2 separate regions of the Homo sapiens genome follow, and region 2 is linked to region 1. The links come from fine-mapping of genetic effects on gene expression. Tissue or cell type: whole blood. Region 1 holds a variant in brackets; the other region holds the start of a gene. All regions are shown on one strand. Distances are between the middles of the regions.

Region 1 (8,113 bases):
TCAAAGAGCAGCTGATGCACCCACAAAATCTAGAAAGTCATCCCCCACTTGTTCAAAGCAGAAAACACACATTCTGTGCCTAAAGAATTCCAGGGTAGAAATGCCTTATAAAAAAGAATGGGGACAGCATGTTCAAACTTCTTTTTATTAGAAATAAAATAAACCTTTTTGGAAATAGGCAGTGACATTTTTCAGAAAGCTTAATTTTGGTTCTAGTAATATCTTCTTTTAATAATCACTAACAGCAGAATTTTAATCAAAGTGTGCTTATATTTTACTTCTGTAAAAAGAAAATTAGTTTGTCTTTAGTTTTTTAAAAAAAGGATTCAATGAGATATCCGTGTAATTAATTTTGAAATTATCTTATTTCCAGACTTATCTTTAAATAGATATTGGTGAAATAGATATTTTCAAAACCTCTTGACAGGATATTTTTGAAAAGTAAAGTGTTTTGTAAATAGATAGAATTGTATAATATCTCTAATGCAAAAAAATGTATAAAGGACTTTAAAACTTATGATATAAACTGTTTTTGCTGTTCTAATAATTTGCTTAGAAATGACATCCACCAAAACCCCCCAAAATATTTAACATTAATTTTGATGAAAGATGTCATTGAAAAGTTTTCCCTCTTGGAAGTAAAACATTAAAAATTGTATGTGTGTGACGGTTGAGGGAGAGGAGTTGCAGGACTTCATGATGCCCTCATCAGCTGAAGACCAGGAGAGAAACTTATGTCTGGATGTAATAGAGGCTCCATTTTGAAAACTTCAAAAGGCCAAGAAAATTAAAATGTAGCTCTGGCCTAATCAAAATTGGGTTTTTAATCAGTTTCTAGCACTTCGTTAGCTCTTTTGCCATAATAATTTCATTTTCCAATTTTATGATAACTTGTGGACATCTCATCATGCCACTATCAAAATGCATGCTCTTTGGGGACTAGATCTGTTTTTTTTTTTCTATCACCCACAGAAATGCACAGTTCCTACAGAAATCTAAATATTCAATAAATATCGATTGTTTTAATAAATGTCTGAATAAATTGTTAAAGTTGTAGCATATAATTTGCATGCCTTCTGTGGCTGATTCCTGTTAGGAGTTCTGCTATGCATAAAATAAAATGTTAGACTAAAAACACTACATGACCAGTATACTCTTACCTATAGATTTACGGGAACATTTGGACTCTAACTTGCTAGGTTTTTAAGGTTTTTAAATTAAAGAAAAGTTGTATCTAATATTATAAATGAATCAATGTTGAGCTTATTGTTCCAGAAAAGATAGCAGTAGTAGAAACTGTTGGTTGTTAACTGCCTACCAAAATTCATCCTCCCCAACCTAATTATATTTCCCTATCTCCATTGCAATTGAGTATGGCCATGAAACTAAGTTCTCTCTGATGGAATGTGAGGGGAAGTGGTGTATCTCTTTCAGATATGGCCCACAAAAACCGTCTCAGGAAGTTGCCTTCATCACTCCAGCTTACAGGGATGATGACATCCAGAACATTACAAGTTAAAGATGGCACTACCACTTTTACTTTGGTTCCCTGAATGGTTGTGTGGAGCAGAGTCCCCTTTAGTGATGTGTGACATCCATTTTGGGCTGTTTTGTAAAGAAAAAATAAACTTCTACTGAGTTTGAGTCAATTATATCTTGAGTCAATCTGTCATAACACTTTAGCCTATCCTAATTAAAATACATAGGACTTATTGAGTGCCTCCTCTCTGCTAGGCAAGAGGCTAGAGAGACATTTCCATTCCATTTCCATTTCTAAGACATTATTAAATACTATATTTTTCAATCTGGTTTTGAACTCTGATGTGTCAGGCATCACTGAGTATTTTATATTTACTGTCTTATCCTCCCAATAGCCCTATGAGGTAAGTACTGCTATTTCCCCACTTCACTAATAAGAAAATAGAGGCTTTGGAAAATTTAGAAATTGGTCCAGAGTCACACAGCTAAGAAGTATTGTAGCAATAACCAAACATAAACAAAATCCATGGGGCCATCCACTGAGCTATGCTGTCTTGGCCAGACACTGTATCCTTAAGGGATACCTCCAAATGCAATTGCTACATCAGAACTGATGTTGAAGGATGTAGGTCCCTTTGTGCTAAAAACTCTGATTTGTGCCCTAGTGTGAATTCTAAGAGGTATGTTGCAACATGACTGAAAATGGTCAAGTGTTCTGTCTAGGACAAGTGATTGATTCCCATCAGAACACTTTTATACTCACTTCTATGCTATGAAGCCCCATACATCAATAGACCCTGTGTCTTATTCTATGCACATCAATAAACTGGATTAGGAGTTGGGGGTTACAAAAAAAGGTCAACAGTACAAATTTTGACTTTGTGGGGAGATCACAGAGACTAAGTACACATCTACATGAAGCAAGTAATCAATGATAAGTGATCCTAAAGGTTAAATAACCATGGAACATAACTCAGGGTTTGACATCTCCAAGCCCGACCTCTGCTGTGCAAGAGATTTTCATAAGCAGTAATGCCCTCAGCAGCTATTGCAGTTTTTACACTCTTTAGAGAAAGATTTGAGTATAAACACACTGGACACAAGAACCTTGAATGTGATACTAACAGTGGTCTGTATTTGAGTTTCCTTATATAAAAGGAAACTCTTGGGATGAAAGCTATCAAGAACATTTTAATTTGCTTGGTTTAGTAAAATAAATGCCCCCATCGGTGGATACAACAACACATAGATACATCTATAAGTAATTTCTTTAAATCACTCTTCAGATACAACTTACATTGAAGTTTCTCTATTTTTAATTAAGGCAGCTGCTTGTTTTGCTATGATATAAATTTTATTACCAGCATTAAAGCCAATAATGTAACTAGCTTTCAAATAGTGGAGTGCCTTTGAAACTCAAATTCTCATATCTGGAGTTATGTTTGCTAGGTTTGAGATTTTGCCTTTTGCAGCATCAGCTTTTGGTTCAGACTTGCCCTTTGAATATGGTCTTCTGATGAGTCTTCTGCCTAAAGAAGTAGGACTACACAGCTAATTTTTCTAGGAAGAATTTCTTGGCCAGCCATGCATCATCTCTGTGTTGACACTGTAGTATATCTTATCATCCTGCCACAGCCTTCTTCACTTT[T/C]TCCTGAACTTTTGTGACTTTGGCAGCCTCACAGGCTCCCACTGCTAAACTATGTAGGAACTCATGCCCCTGAAGAAACAGACAAGTAAGGCAGAGGATTTTAGTATTGTTTCTCCATCTCCAGCTGGGTACCCTCAACCACAAGCTTATCTCTTCTTGCTTTCCTGTAGAATTATTCATCAGAACCGTTAGATTCCAGATCCTTAATGTAAGTTTCTGCTGACTTCATCTTACTAAACATGAGATGCTTGAGAAGATAAAATGAGATAATGCATACAAATTGCCATAATCTCTGATGTCATTAGAATTTAATTATTATCACCTTTTTTTCAGATCATTTATTGAACCACAGTTCTTTTTTTCAGACAGGGTCTTGCTCTGTAGGCTGGGCTGGAGTCCAATGATGCAATCTTGGCTCATTGCAGCCTTGAACTCCTCAGCTCAAGAGATCCTCCCACCGTAGCCTCCTGACTAGCTGGGCCTACAGGCATGTGCCACCACGCCTGGATTTTTTTTTTTTGTTTGTTTTTATAGAGATGTGTTTCACCATATTGCCCAGGCTGGTCTTGCAATCCTGGCTAATTTTTTTTTTAATTGTAGAGACAGGGTTTCGCCATGTTGCCCAGGCTGGCCTCAAACTCCTGGGCTCAAGCTATCCACCTGCCTTGGCTTCCCAAATTGCCAGGATTACAAGCATGAGCCACCATGCCCAGCCTGGACCATAGTTTTTAATGGGTGATATTACTATACTTTCACAGGCATGTGGCCACTCTCCACTCCCTCTTATATATCTGATTGATTTCACTGTGATGAGGTTGGTCCACCTTCTTGGACAAGGCTTAGCATGTGTTATTTGGTGGGTTTGTCAGTTTGGTCCTTAGGGAAGCAGATGTCATGATGGAATTAGAAGCACAGGAGATTTACAGGGGGTAACATCTATGAAAGATAAAGGGGATCAGGAGTAGACAAAGCCTTCAGATAGCAATATGGGCCTCATGTTCTAAAGGAGAGAAGGGAAAAGGTGAGTAGTAGGAAACTGCGGTGCAGCTCTCAACAGCCTGGGACAGCACAATGGAACATCAGCACAAAGTTACCTGTAGAGGAGTCCTGAGCTGGGCAGAATGGTCAGACTGTGTGCTCCACTGAGCTTGGTCATTGGTCGTGAGCTCCCAAAAGAAGCATGTCCTCAGCTCTAACGCTGTGGCAGATACCAAAGGCCTACAGCTAGAGAACTGAGTGGTGCACATTCTTGATGGCCTTGATGCAGTTCCATCTGGGATGTGAGCGCAAGTGGTTTTTGTGGGGAGGGGAGCCCAGAAAACACCAGTAGGGGGATGGGAAGGGAGCAGACCAAGAGTGTATGCCTTATGGTATTCATGTTCTGTTGAAGTCATAGCAAGTTACCACAAACTTAGGGGCTTTAAACAACACACATCTTTTTATCCCATAGTTTTTGTAGATCAGAGGTCTGGGCACAGCATGGCTGAGCTGGCTCTCTGCCAAGCATTCCACAACACCAAAACCAAGGGGTTTTCAGGTCTGGACTCCTGTCTAGAGGTCCTGGGAGAGAATCTCCTCCCTGGAGCAGAAGCTCATTCAGATGGTTGGCAGAATCCAGTTTCTTGTGGCTATAAAACTGAGGTCCCATTTCCTTTCTGGCTATCAGCTGCAGATCACTTGTAGCTCCTAAAACCTTTCTCTGATCCTCGAACACCGGTCCTTATATCTCAGCTCTAGCAAAGTTGCATCAACTCCTTCTCCTGCTTCAAACATCTCTGGACTTCTCCTGCTGCTGCATCTCATCTGCTGCATTTCTCCAAATAGAGAAAGTTCTGTTTTTAGGGCCCATATAATTAGACTGGGCCCACCTGGATAATCTAGGCTACTCTCCCTATCTTAAAATATATAACTTTAATTACATCTGCAAAGCCTCTTTTCCCACATGTGCTCCCACAACTTCACAGGTGCCAAGAATTAGGATGTGACCCTCTTGGGGAATATCATTCTCCCTGTTACAATTATCAAGCAGGTCAGCCACTCTAGGCAACTGAGTTTCACCTCTGATGGAACTCTAGGAGAAAGTGCAGAATATGCTCCAGACTCATTCCACCTGGGCAATGAAGGAGCTGGGGTATTTATCCTTCAACTCCCAACAGCTAGGGCTGTTTCAGGGGTGTTAACTACCCAACATTTGCAGCAGGCCCCGCTGAGCATAAACCCTCACGCAGAGAATCCTGGGTGTGTGCCATAGGATCCTTTGGTATACACCAAGAGGGTTAAGTGCTGAGAGGGTATGGGTGGGGTATTGCTAGTTTCCATGATCCTGTGCATGTGTAGGTATGCTCAAAGTGAAGCCCGGTCATCCCTGGGGGACCAACAGGCCAGGCAAGTTTACCAGGGCCTATTGGTCCCAAACTTTCCATTTTGAGAGGCAGGACATGAGGAATAGATGATAAGGCCTTGCTTAAGCCTCAGTGATAAGCCTCAGGCTTCAAGTCAGTCTTTTACCAGAGCTCCAGTATAGGTTATAAGATTTATGCCCAACTATGACTAAGGTGAACTTTGCCTCATATGTTGCTAGATTCCTTATTTGTGGTATTTCCTTTGAGGCCCCACACAAAGGAGGTGTGATTAACAAGTCAGGATCCAGTTATCATAATGTCAGGAAAACTCCTCTATTCCTTATAATCTTCTGACAACTGAGAAGAGAAAGACATCGATATGACAGAACTTATCTATATGATGAATCCAAAGGGCTGCCTCTGGAAGGCAGAAATACCAAGCAATGGCAGTGAGGCACAGGGTAAGTGGTGCCCATTTAACACACACTAAGTCAATAAATAGTCCTGGCCGTTCAGATGTAGACTTCAACAATACTCAGTATGTTTCAGAATCATTTGGTGGGTGAATTTCCCCACTTGTGACAAGTTCATCACTGCTTTTGTCTGGCTGAACTTTCAGCCCAGACAGTATCACAACACCATCCTCAACAGATAGTCTGAGGCTGTCTTGGGTGCTAAGATTATCCCTGCCATTGAGTACATTCCTCAAACGCAGAACAAATAACAAGACTGGAGAACAGGGGCTTGGAGTCAGACAAAACTGAGTTTAAGCCCCAGATTCTATACCTCCATAATGAAGGATCTCACTCACCTCATCTTACTAAACATGAGATGGTTGAGAAGATGAAATGAGATAATGCATACAAAGCAAATTGCCACAATACCTATGTAATCAGAATTCAATTAATGAGTTGCATTTTTGTCAAGTTAGTGCAGTCACCTCCTAAGAGCTGAAAAGTTTGTTTTGTCTGTAATGTTCTTTGGAATTGGAACTAATTCAAACAAGAGACTTAACTGGCTGGGTGCTGGCCTCATCTCTCATCACCCTCACTCTGCACTCTGCACCCTGCACCCGCTTGAGAGCTGGAAGCTGCTCTGGGTCTGCACTGCCTGGTTCCACGCTGAGTCAAAGCTGCTGCTTTCTACCTCATGAGAAAAGAAATATGCTCTGTACTCTATTGACAGAAGATTCTTTGTGTACACAGAAGAGGTTCTTATTTATCCAACAGAAATGTTATCCTCTCGAGTGTTAAAAGGAGCCACAATTCTCATCATCAGGTTTAGGAAATCAAAGTACATTTTAATACTACTTTACAACCTACTGGGGAAAGAACTGCTCTTAGAGTAGCATTATTATTCATCAGGAAGTAGGTTTGGGATCACATTTTGAATTTTCTGTGCCCCTACTCAGCTGTTAGGATGGTTAACTGAGAACTGTGTACATGCCACCTCCTGGATTTTTGGGATGCCTTGTTTTAAGGGCCTCATGTTTATAGGCCTTTCTAGTTTCCCACATCCAGCTATTATCACAAATTCCCAGAAATTTAGTTTCTCAAGAAGCAAATTAAAATGCTCTTTCCTGTGTAGCAAGATGCCTTAGTTAAGTTTTGTGTCAGCTACCTTTCAGGGGTGAGTACTAGAGATGGCCCCCTGCTGTATGATTTTGGGGAATTGAGAACACAGGTATTTAATTATACTACAAGGAATGCTCTGGTTTTGTTAAAAACAAAGTGATTTCCAATTTTAATCACATACAGAAATCTATAGCTCCAAAAGAGCTAACAGAATAGGGAAATACAATGCTGTTTTGATAAGATCTTAGGGTATTTCCAAGGTCCAGGTTAATATAACATTTTAGATAAACAGTTACTATATTTACTGAATATTCACTTAGAGATCATTGTGCAAGATGCTATGGGTGATTTTTATAATACATGACAAAATCACTGCCTTAAGGGAGTTTATAACCTAACGGAAAAAATAAGATTATATTAAACATACTAAACATTGAAGTATAGTATATGATTAAGTGCCAGTTGGAACACCTGCAAACATTTGTGATAAAATTAACAGTGGGAACCACAAGATTGCCAAGGAAGGGAAGGTTGTGGGAACCTTGTGTCCCCAACTTTACCTTCCCTTTGGAAGTTATTGCTAATGGCCCTTGTCCTAGCTTCACTGACCCCACTGGGAGGGAGAAGAGTGTCTGAGTAGGGGGTTTAGGTGGGCTAGAACCCAATAAACATCAAGCTCAAATAGGGAAAATCACAGTTTCTTTCATGGCCCATGGCAAATCTGAAATGAGATGAAAATCAAACTAGACTGAAAAGACTGGAGGAACAAAAGCGAAATGATCTGTAATTTGATCATCTGACCTACCAGCCATACTTCATATATCTTCAGATAGTCGCCACAGAGTTACCTCCTTGTCCGTATCCCTGTATGGCTCCTGAACTAGCTTTTCCTCACCCAAAAAATCATCTGGACACTTCTAAGTCCAGATCTTCGAGAGAGGCAGAAGTTACTTTTCCAGCCTAAGACCCAGGTCTCCTGAGTTCTGGTTTCCTTTCTGAGGGTCTGGCCTCCTCCCCAAGTGATTGACATAATGCCTGCCCCATTGAGGATGGCTCCTACTGTTCCTATG
Region 2 (8,095 bases), 54 kb before region 1:
TGCAGGTGCCTCCACTGTCATCAGTTCACCAACAAGAGCTGACCTATAGATGACCAGAAGGGCTCGCTTCAGCAAAAGCAAAAAAGAAACCCTTTTTTTTTTTTTTTTTGGCCAAATTTAAGGCTAGCCATCTATGTTACAAATCATGCTGCAAAAAGTAAAAAATTTAAAGCTCAGATTGGATCAACATTAAGGAGAGGTAAAGATGGGTGGGTTTCCTGGTCTTTTCAAAATAAATGTGACTTTTAAAAGGATGAAAAAAATGTTTTATGCTCCAGTATATTTGACTCACTGACCTTGACCTTAAGAAATCTGATAACAATCCTAATGCCCTAGAACAATGGAACTTTAAAATTAAATGGAAAAGCATGCACAGCAGCAATGGCAGCCCATAAAGCCCCCAGCATAAATGCTGCATAACTGGAGTAATGGGGAGTTTGAGTGAAAGGCAGTGGAAAGTTACAAGAAATTCAGAAATTATTAAAAGAGAGAGCCTTTATTCTAGGTCTTTTTATCAGTATCTGTTTACAAAAAGGCAAAACTATCCACAGTTATTTATCTATTTCCCCAATTTATGAAGCTTTGACACATGACAGTCACTTTACACCATGTAATCCTCATAAAGAGAGCATTGTTGTCCACTATCTAACATTTTTTTTCTTAATGGAGACTCTTGAGATGGTAAACAGCTTACTCAGATTATACAACAAATCCATTTTTACTTAACAGACAGAAACTCAGATCCAAAAGTATTCTCTTCCTCAGGTCTCTTAACTACCTCATTTGATGAGAATACACAAGTGATCACTCAGAAATTTAGTCAAGAATTTTAAGGTCACTTAATTATTTTAAGATTTGATTGAAAACTTGGCCTATTGCTTAAATCCTCTAGTGGACTTCCTCATTGCATCAGGTCAATTGAGTCAATCTTCAGATAGCTTCACACTTTTTTTTTTTTTTTTTGAGACGGAGTCTCGTTCTGTTGTCCAGGCTAGAGTGCCGTGGCATGATCTCGACTCACTGCAACCTTCGCCTCCTGGGTGCAAGCTATTCTCCTGCCTCAGCCTCCCAAGTAGCTGGGATTACAGGCACCCGCCACCACACCCAGCTAATTTTGTATTTTTAGTAGAGACAGGGTTTCACCATGTTGTCCAGGCTGGTCTCGAACTCCTGACCTCAGGTGATCCACCCGCCTCGGCCTCCCAAAGTGCTGGGATTACAGGCGTGAGCCACTGCAGCCAGCCACCTTCATTTTTCAAAATGATGAATGTGTTATAATAGAAACTTCTAGTCTTCTACGGTACCCACCATAGAGAAAGTTGCCTTATATAAATTTAAAACAAAAAAAGCATGTGTTACTGCAGCAAGATTTCCAATAGAGAGCGAAAACCTATTTGACATTAATCAATCACTTTTGAATCCTTGCCACAGCAAGTAAAATGTGAGGACAAAGGAACACAGACTGGGTCATGATTCATTAGTACTTAACTTAGATCAAGCTAAAGCAGACAAGAGGAGATAAATTTCTTATCAAACAGCTTTAGTGATGATGGAAGATTTAGACTCTATTTCAGCATTTTGCTTATTGAATTCCACATAGACAAATTTATCATTTTGAATCTCCCCAGTAAATTTTCTCTGCATTCAAATAAATGATAAGCTATGGGCGAAGAAATTCTCTCCTTTAATACTTTAATACCATATACAAATCTAGTCATCACATTAGTTGAATCCTAGAACCTCCTTCCTTTTGTGAATTAAAAACTTACAGCTCTTGGAAGACCAAGATATCAATACTGAGAATAATCAAAGGGTACATGTATAAGGATGGTGATGGGAGGTTAATCTCAACAGATACAGAAGTAAACAAAGCTTGGCTTAATAAAGCAAATGGTTATTTTAAGCAACATCAAATTTTTATAACGAGATCAGTAATGGAGAATATATAATGAAGCTTTTCAATAGAGTTCAAGGATTGAAACGAAGTGTGAAAAACACGACATTTTAGAAGCACACATCTATACAACACTGAAATTAAGATTAGGGATAGTAAGTGACATGGCAGGAATTTCTTTCCATTTTTTTTTAATTTCATAATTTTTTTTAATTTCACAGATTTTTTTGTTTAATTTCACAAGGATTAGTACATGAGCCATTATTTATCTGGCTTAGTAAAAAGTTTTCTGCCTATCTTAGCTAAGAGAAATGGAAGGCAACACTTTGATATGAGTGAATATAGCAATAATCAAGAAATTCCTATTCTATGAGATGTGGCAATGGTCGCAAATAAAATGTGACTAGTGTCCATGGGCAAGGTGAATAATTAATATATTCATTCACTGGGGACCTACATATAGTTCCCAATGAATGGGAACTTTTGGTATTAAAAAATTTGTATAAAGGTAATTTTTTGGTATAAAAGAAAATTATTAGCTTAAATTTCATCCTGTGCTCTCAGGAAAAAGAAAAATACTATTGGTCGTTTTTTAGAGAATGATACTAGGTATCAGCTAGCGTACTCAAGACCTGTGATATATACACATCATGTAAAATTTAAACACACCAACACTTACTAACATACAGCAATAGCACCAATATATTGAATAGACTTTAAACAGATTATTTTCATTAATTAAAGAAAATACCTGATATACCTCACACAGCTACCTGCAAAATGCTGCAAACACAGCAGAAGCTCAATAGAGATATTAATTAATCCAGTCAGCTAATGGTGATACCGTAACTACAAAAGCTGTATCCAAGATGATAGAGTTCTTAACTGGCCTCTCTGTCTTCAGTCTCACTGAAGTCCCACCCTCTAGACTGCAAAATAATCTTTCCAAAGATGAAATTTCTACTATGACACTCTATTTTTTAAATATTTAGTGGCCCGCAAAATAAGTTCCAACTTCCTTAGCATGTCTTCCTCACACGGCCCTTCATGATTTGGCTGTTATGTATCTAGACACCCTTAGATCCTGATACTTCCACACTTATTCCCTACACTCCCAGAATGCTAGACAACCAGCAATTCCTTGAGTATACCTTGTAGTCCCGTTTCATGCCTTGATCTCTATAGCAGCCATCATTGATACCCACCCATATCCGTTCAGCACTCACCATTTCTGTGAACCTCTAACTGCTGGCTTTCACCTGCGACTCTTTGCCTGAGGGCTTTCTCAGGTGGCCAGAGCTAATGGGGCCCACACCTGTGGAAAATCTAAAATAGAGAAGAATTAACATCCATAGGGAGCAGCTCTCAACCACAGAATGACTGGAACTGGTGAGCAGCTCCAAGTCATAGCCACACTGTTTCCCAGGGTGCTCCCAAAGAACTGAGAGACCCAGTTGCTCACAGAAGTAATCTGCCAGAAAAGACACTCTTTACAGTCATTCTTCCCTTCCTTATCTCACTTCCCACTCCCCTACTAGTGTTTCCTCCCAAATAAACTGCTGTACTCAACTCTTTGCCTCAGAGTGTGCTTCTGAGGAGAATCTTGTCCAAGATAGTCCCTTTACAAGTATCGTTCCCACTTCTGGAGAATATTTTTCCTTTCCTTCAAACCTACTTGGGAATTCTTCACCATCCTTTAAAGCAAACCTTCTTAAAATTTAATGTCATACAAATGACCAGAGATCTTATTAAAATAGAGATCCTGATTTGGTATGTCCTGAATGGGATCTGAGATTCTGAAGTTCTAACAGGCTTCTGGAAAAGGCGAATACCCCCAGTTTGAAAACCACACTTTGTGAGTAGCAAATATTTAAGACACAGTTCAAAAACCTATTTCTTTGGAAGTCTTCCCTAAAACTCCTTCATTCCTATCCTGATGATTAATTTTTCTTTTTCCCCTATGTTTATTACTGTGTGTGGTAATTCTTTGTTTACAGGTCTATCTCCAATGAGTTTGTTCCTTTAAGATGAGGATTGTCTTTTTCTTATCCATGTATCCACAATAACTAGCATATAGCCTGACATATTACCCATACCTAAGAAATGTTTGTGAACTGGTAAAATTAATGAACAAATTATAATTTTATGGCATACTTCACCAAAAATTTTATATGTACACATATTGTGTTCTGACACATTCAACTAAGTCAACTGTGTTATAAATATAAATTGTATAAATTCTTCAGATTTCTGGTCTATTTTTACATTAAATCATAGACTTCAGGACTTCTGAACAATGCAGATTATAGAATTTCTGCTGTAGAGATATTTAATAGGCTATGTCAACATCAGCTTAAAATGGTTTAGTTAACTGTTATCTAAAGGTCAGGAAAAGTATCAATCACTAGAATCCCTTCTTTGTATTCATATTTAAAATCTGTGGATGAATGTTGTGCAAGTTAGTCATTCATTGGGTTTAGGGAAGTGGAGAAGGTGGTGGCAGTGTGTGTGTGTGTGTGTGTGTGTGTAGGCACTTGCATGCATTTTGGGGGTGGGAGATATATTAGAGCAGAAATCACAAGAACATCCTAGGAGGAAGTACTTTATGGACTGCTCTCTTACCTGCCACAAATTGCTTGCAAATGCCATTGCCCTCAGAATCTCAGGATTGAACTTCTTGTTTATTTTAGTTGCTTCCTTCTTAAGAAAAATTCAATGTAAGGTGGTGAAACTAAATCTATCAAGGGAATAGCTATATGGTATCCTTAGATGGACAACTAATGGAAATAGCATCTGATCTTTCTACTTTAAGATGCAAGAACAGAAACTAGGGTGTTTTGAGCATATCAAGTTCTGAACTAGATAATAGCACTGATAATGGACTAAAGAAAAGTGATATGTGGAGCCCACAGTGTTGACTGGAAGTCAGCTCCTATCTCATTCCAACCTCATTCTCTTACCATTAGAAATCAACCCTGAGCATGTTAGAAAGATGTTCTCATGACAAGGAAAATGGCAACTGAAAGCCCTTGACATATTAAGATTTGACTAGATCAGAACTTGAATAACATTTTGTACTTTATTTGCATCTACCACATTGTATTTTAATTCTTACTGTCTAGGTCCATGTTTCCAATTAGGTTAGTCAAGTCCTTGAGAGCAGGAATCAATTTAATTCAGTTTTTTATTCCTGGAATATCGCTTGACCTATTGCAGATGTTCAGTTATCACTGTTGAGTTAATGAATCAATGAATGAATTGATCAATGAATAAATTATAGCCACATCATAATTGTTAAAAGAACACTAAACAGTGGATTAAAGCTTTGGGAGTCCAGAGAGCTAGGGAGGAGTCACAGTTTCTCAAAGATTTTACTAGTTCGAAAGGGTGTATTTAACATTAAAACAACAAAGAGATATACTTAGAACCCACTCTAAACAAAGACTAATAATAACAAGGACTGACGAGAATGTAAGAACTGGAACTCTCATGCATTGCTGGTGGGAATGTGAAATGCTACGTTTACTCAAAAATTATTATTTACTATATAACCCAGTAATTTCACTCTTAGATCTATACTCAAGAAAAATGAGAATCTGTGTCCAGACAAAGACTTGTGCATGAATGTTCGTAACAGCATCATTCATAATAGCCAAAATTTGGAGACTACTGAAATGTCTATCAACTTGTTAATGGAGAAGCAAAATATGGTATGTCCATATGAACGGATATATTCAACTATAAAAAGAACAGACTTACAGATAGATGCTACATTTATAAATTTTACCAAATGTAAATTTTTCCAACAGGACTGTTGCTACTCATTATCTCTTTTGTTATCCTGAGAATTTCCATAGAATGCTTTAACTATCCATTGAACACTTCCCACAAAATCTTGTTATTGCTCATAGTTCTAGTTTTTCCCTTTTAAAAAGGGGTATTTATATTTTTATGATTAATGTTAAAGTAAATTTACCAATACATGTTCTAAAACTGTAGTTCAACTCAGAAATTCTTAGACCCTCACCTTCATCCTGAGTTCACTGTCTTATTGCTAAAGCACAAACTTTAATAGTTCTTTTACTTCAGTTATGTGGACAATAAATTGTATTATTCTTTTTGTGTGCGAAAAATGCTTCTATTTTGCCATTACATTTGAATAACAGTGTTGGTGAGGATGTGGAGAAATTGGAACTTTTGTGCACTGTTGATGGGAAAGTAAAATGATATAGCCACTATGGAAAACAGTATGGCAGTTTCTCAGAAAATTAAAAATAAAATTACCATATGATCCAGCAATTCTGTTTCTGGGTGTATAACTAAAATAATTTAAAGTAGTGTCTAATAGAGATGTTTGTACAAATATGCTCATAGAAGCATTAATCACATTAGTCAAAAGGTAAAAATAACCCAAGTGCCCAATTGATGAGAAAATGGATAAACAAAAGGTAGTCTATACATCTACATATACAATGAAATATTATTCAGCCTTAAAAAAATGAAATTATAATGCATGCTACATACGTATAAACCTTGAGGAGACTGTGCTAAGTGAAATAAGCCAGTCATGAAAACACAAATATTGTATGATTCGCTTTATAAGAGGTATTTAGAGTAGTTAAATTTGTAGAGACAGAAAGTAGAAAGGCACTTGCCAGTGGGGCTGAGAGGAGGTTGGAATGAGGGGTTGTTGTTTAAGAGGGGTAGAGTTTCAGCTTTGCAGGATGAAATGAGTTCTGGATTTTGATTGCACACCAGTGTGAATGTACTTTACACTCCTGACTTAAAATGATTAAGCTGGTAAATTATATGTTACATATATTCTGTCACAATCAAAAATAAAAATAAAGGAAATGAGGGAAAAAAGAATGAAGAGGACTGAAACACATGGCAGGAAATTGACAAATCATAAATAGGAAAAGAAAAATAGAAATAGCGTCTGAAAATCTATTCTTTCACAAATTGCCATTGAGGGAGACTCTCTGCTCACAAAAGCATTGAAGGAAAATGCAAAGTTAAAGATCAACAAATCCAGCCACCTAAAGTTTAACACATTTGAAGATTAAAACCTTGGATAAAAGGAAGAGGCAAGTATTAAATGAAGAAGGATATTTTTTAAAAAGTGATCCACAAGGAAATAATATCCTTAATATTTAAATAGCTAATAATAATAGATAACATTTATGGAGCATATACTATGTGCCAGGTAGTGTTGTGAGCACTTAATATATTTTATCTCATTACTCCTCACAACTACTCTGAGACATAGTCATATCTACTATTACCCATTTTAAAGATGAGAACTGAGGCACAGTCATTCTGCAACTTGCCCATTGGTGTCCCATAGAAGTGACAGAGTCAGCATGATGCTCGGAAAATCGGTGCTAGAGAGCCTATGATTCTAAGCACTAAACTCTGTTAAGAAAAAATAGAAATACTCCAAAAAAAGACAATTATAGGAATAGGTAATACTCTAGGAAAGAAAGAAGTGATCAAAACTATAACCATGTTCAACTCATGAGTCATCAGAAAAACACAAATTAAAATAATGTTACCATTATTTACCTTTCAAGTTAACAGAGTTCTTCCAATTATAGCACTCATTGAGTGCAAGGCTACAAAGAGACAGATTGCTGAAGAAAGTGAGAATGGTTGGAAATTGGTAAGACAAGGCTTCCAAACAAAACAGACCAAAAAAAAAAAAAAATGATGTGGAGGTAGGGGAGGAGAAAAGTAACCAAGTAAGAGTTCAAGCAAGGGAGAAAGACCCTGCATTTGTCCTTTTGTTTCCATTTCCATAAGAGTACATAAACCCTTAAAATAATCCATCTAGCCTGTCATTACAGGGAGAACACAGTTTATTGTGGAGCTGACAAAAAGTAAGAGTCAACTCTAGGATATTTGATTGGGGTCCATCCAGGTGGGGCACTGGTCATCCTCATAGCAAATAAAAGCAATTTTTCTCCCTTGTGACTCTGTCTTAATCAACTGTCAGCCAACCCAGAGTTAGTGTTTGCCACCTCTGCCCTTTCTGCCTTCTCTGCCCGCAGTCTTTGTTTCTGCTCACACTTGAGTTTGGTGTAATCAAGCCTCAACTCTAAACTTCACACTCTGCTGGTTTCAGGGGACTTGGAGGACAAAGAAGGGAACGCTGTGTGCATTAACTACAACAGGCTTCCGGGCAGTGACTCTTCTCTTTGG

The links. PIP is the estimated chance that this variant, and not a neighbour inherited with it, causes the effect.
Region 2: LINC00534 starts here. The variant in region 1 is fine-mapped to the expression of LINC00534 in whole blood (TOPMed, PIP above 0.99). The same link has a PIP of 0.9 or more in blood mononuclear cells.

Annotation. Positions count from the first base shown.
Region 1 is chr8:90,163,163-90,171,275 of GRCh38, reverse strand. No RefSeq gene overlaps it. Among named protein-coding and RNA genes, the nearest start is that of LINC00534, 54 kb to the left of the region's middle. RefSeq lists cis regulatory regions at 3,097-3,114, 2,961-3,329 and an enhancer at 3,034-3,178. The variant T/C (reference allele first, on the strand shown) is at 3,128.
Region 2 is chr8:90,216,772-90,224,866 of GRCh38, reverse strand. It overlaps LINC00534 (long intergenic non-protein coding RNA 534), which reads right to left and starts at 3,379. Exons shown (of 4, transcript NR_051989.1): 1 at 3,121-3,379.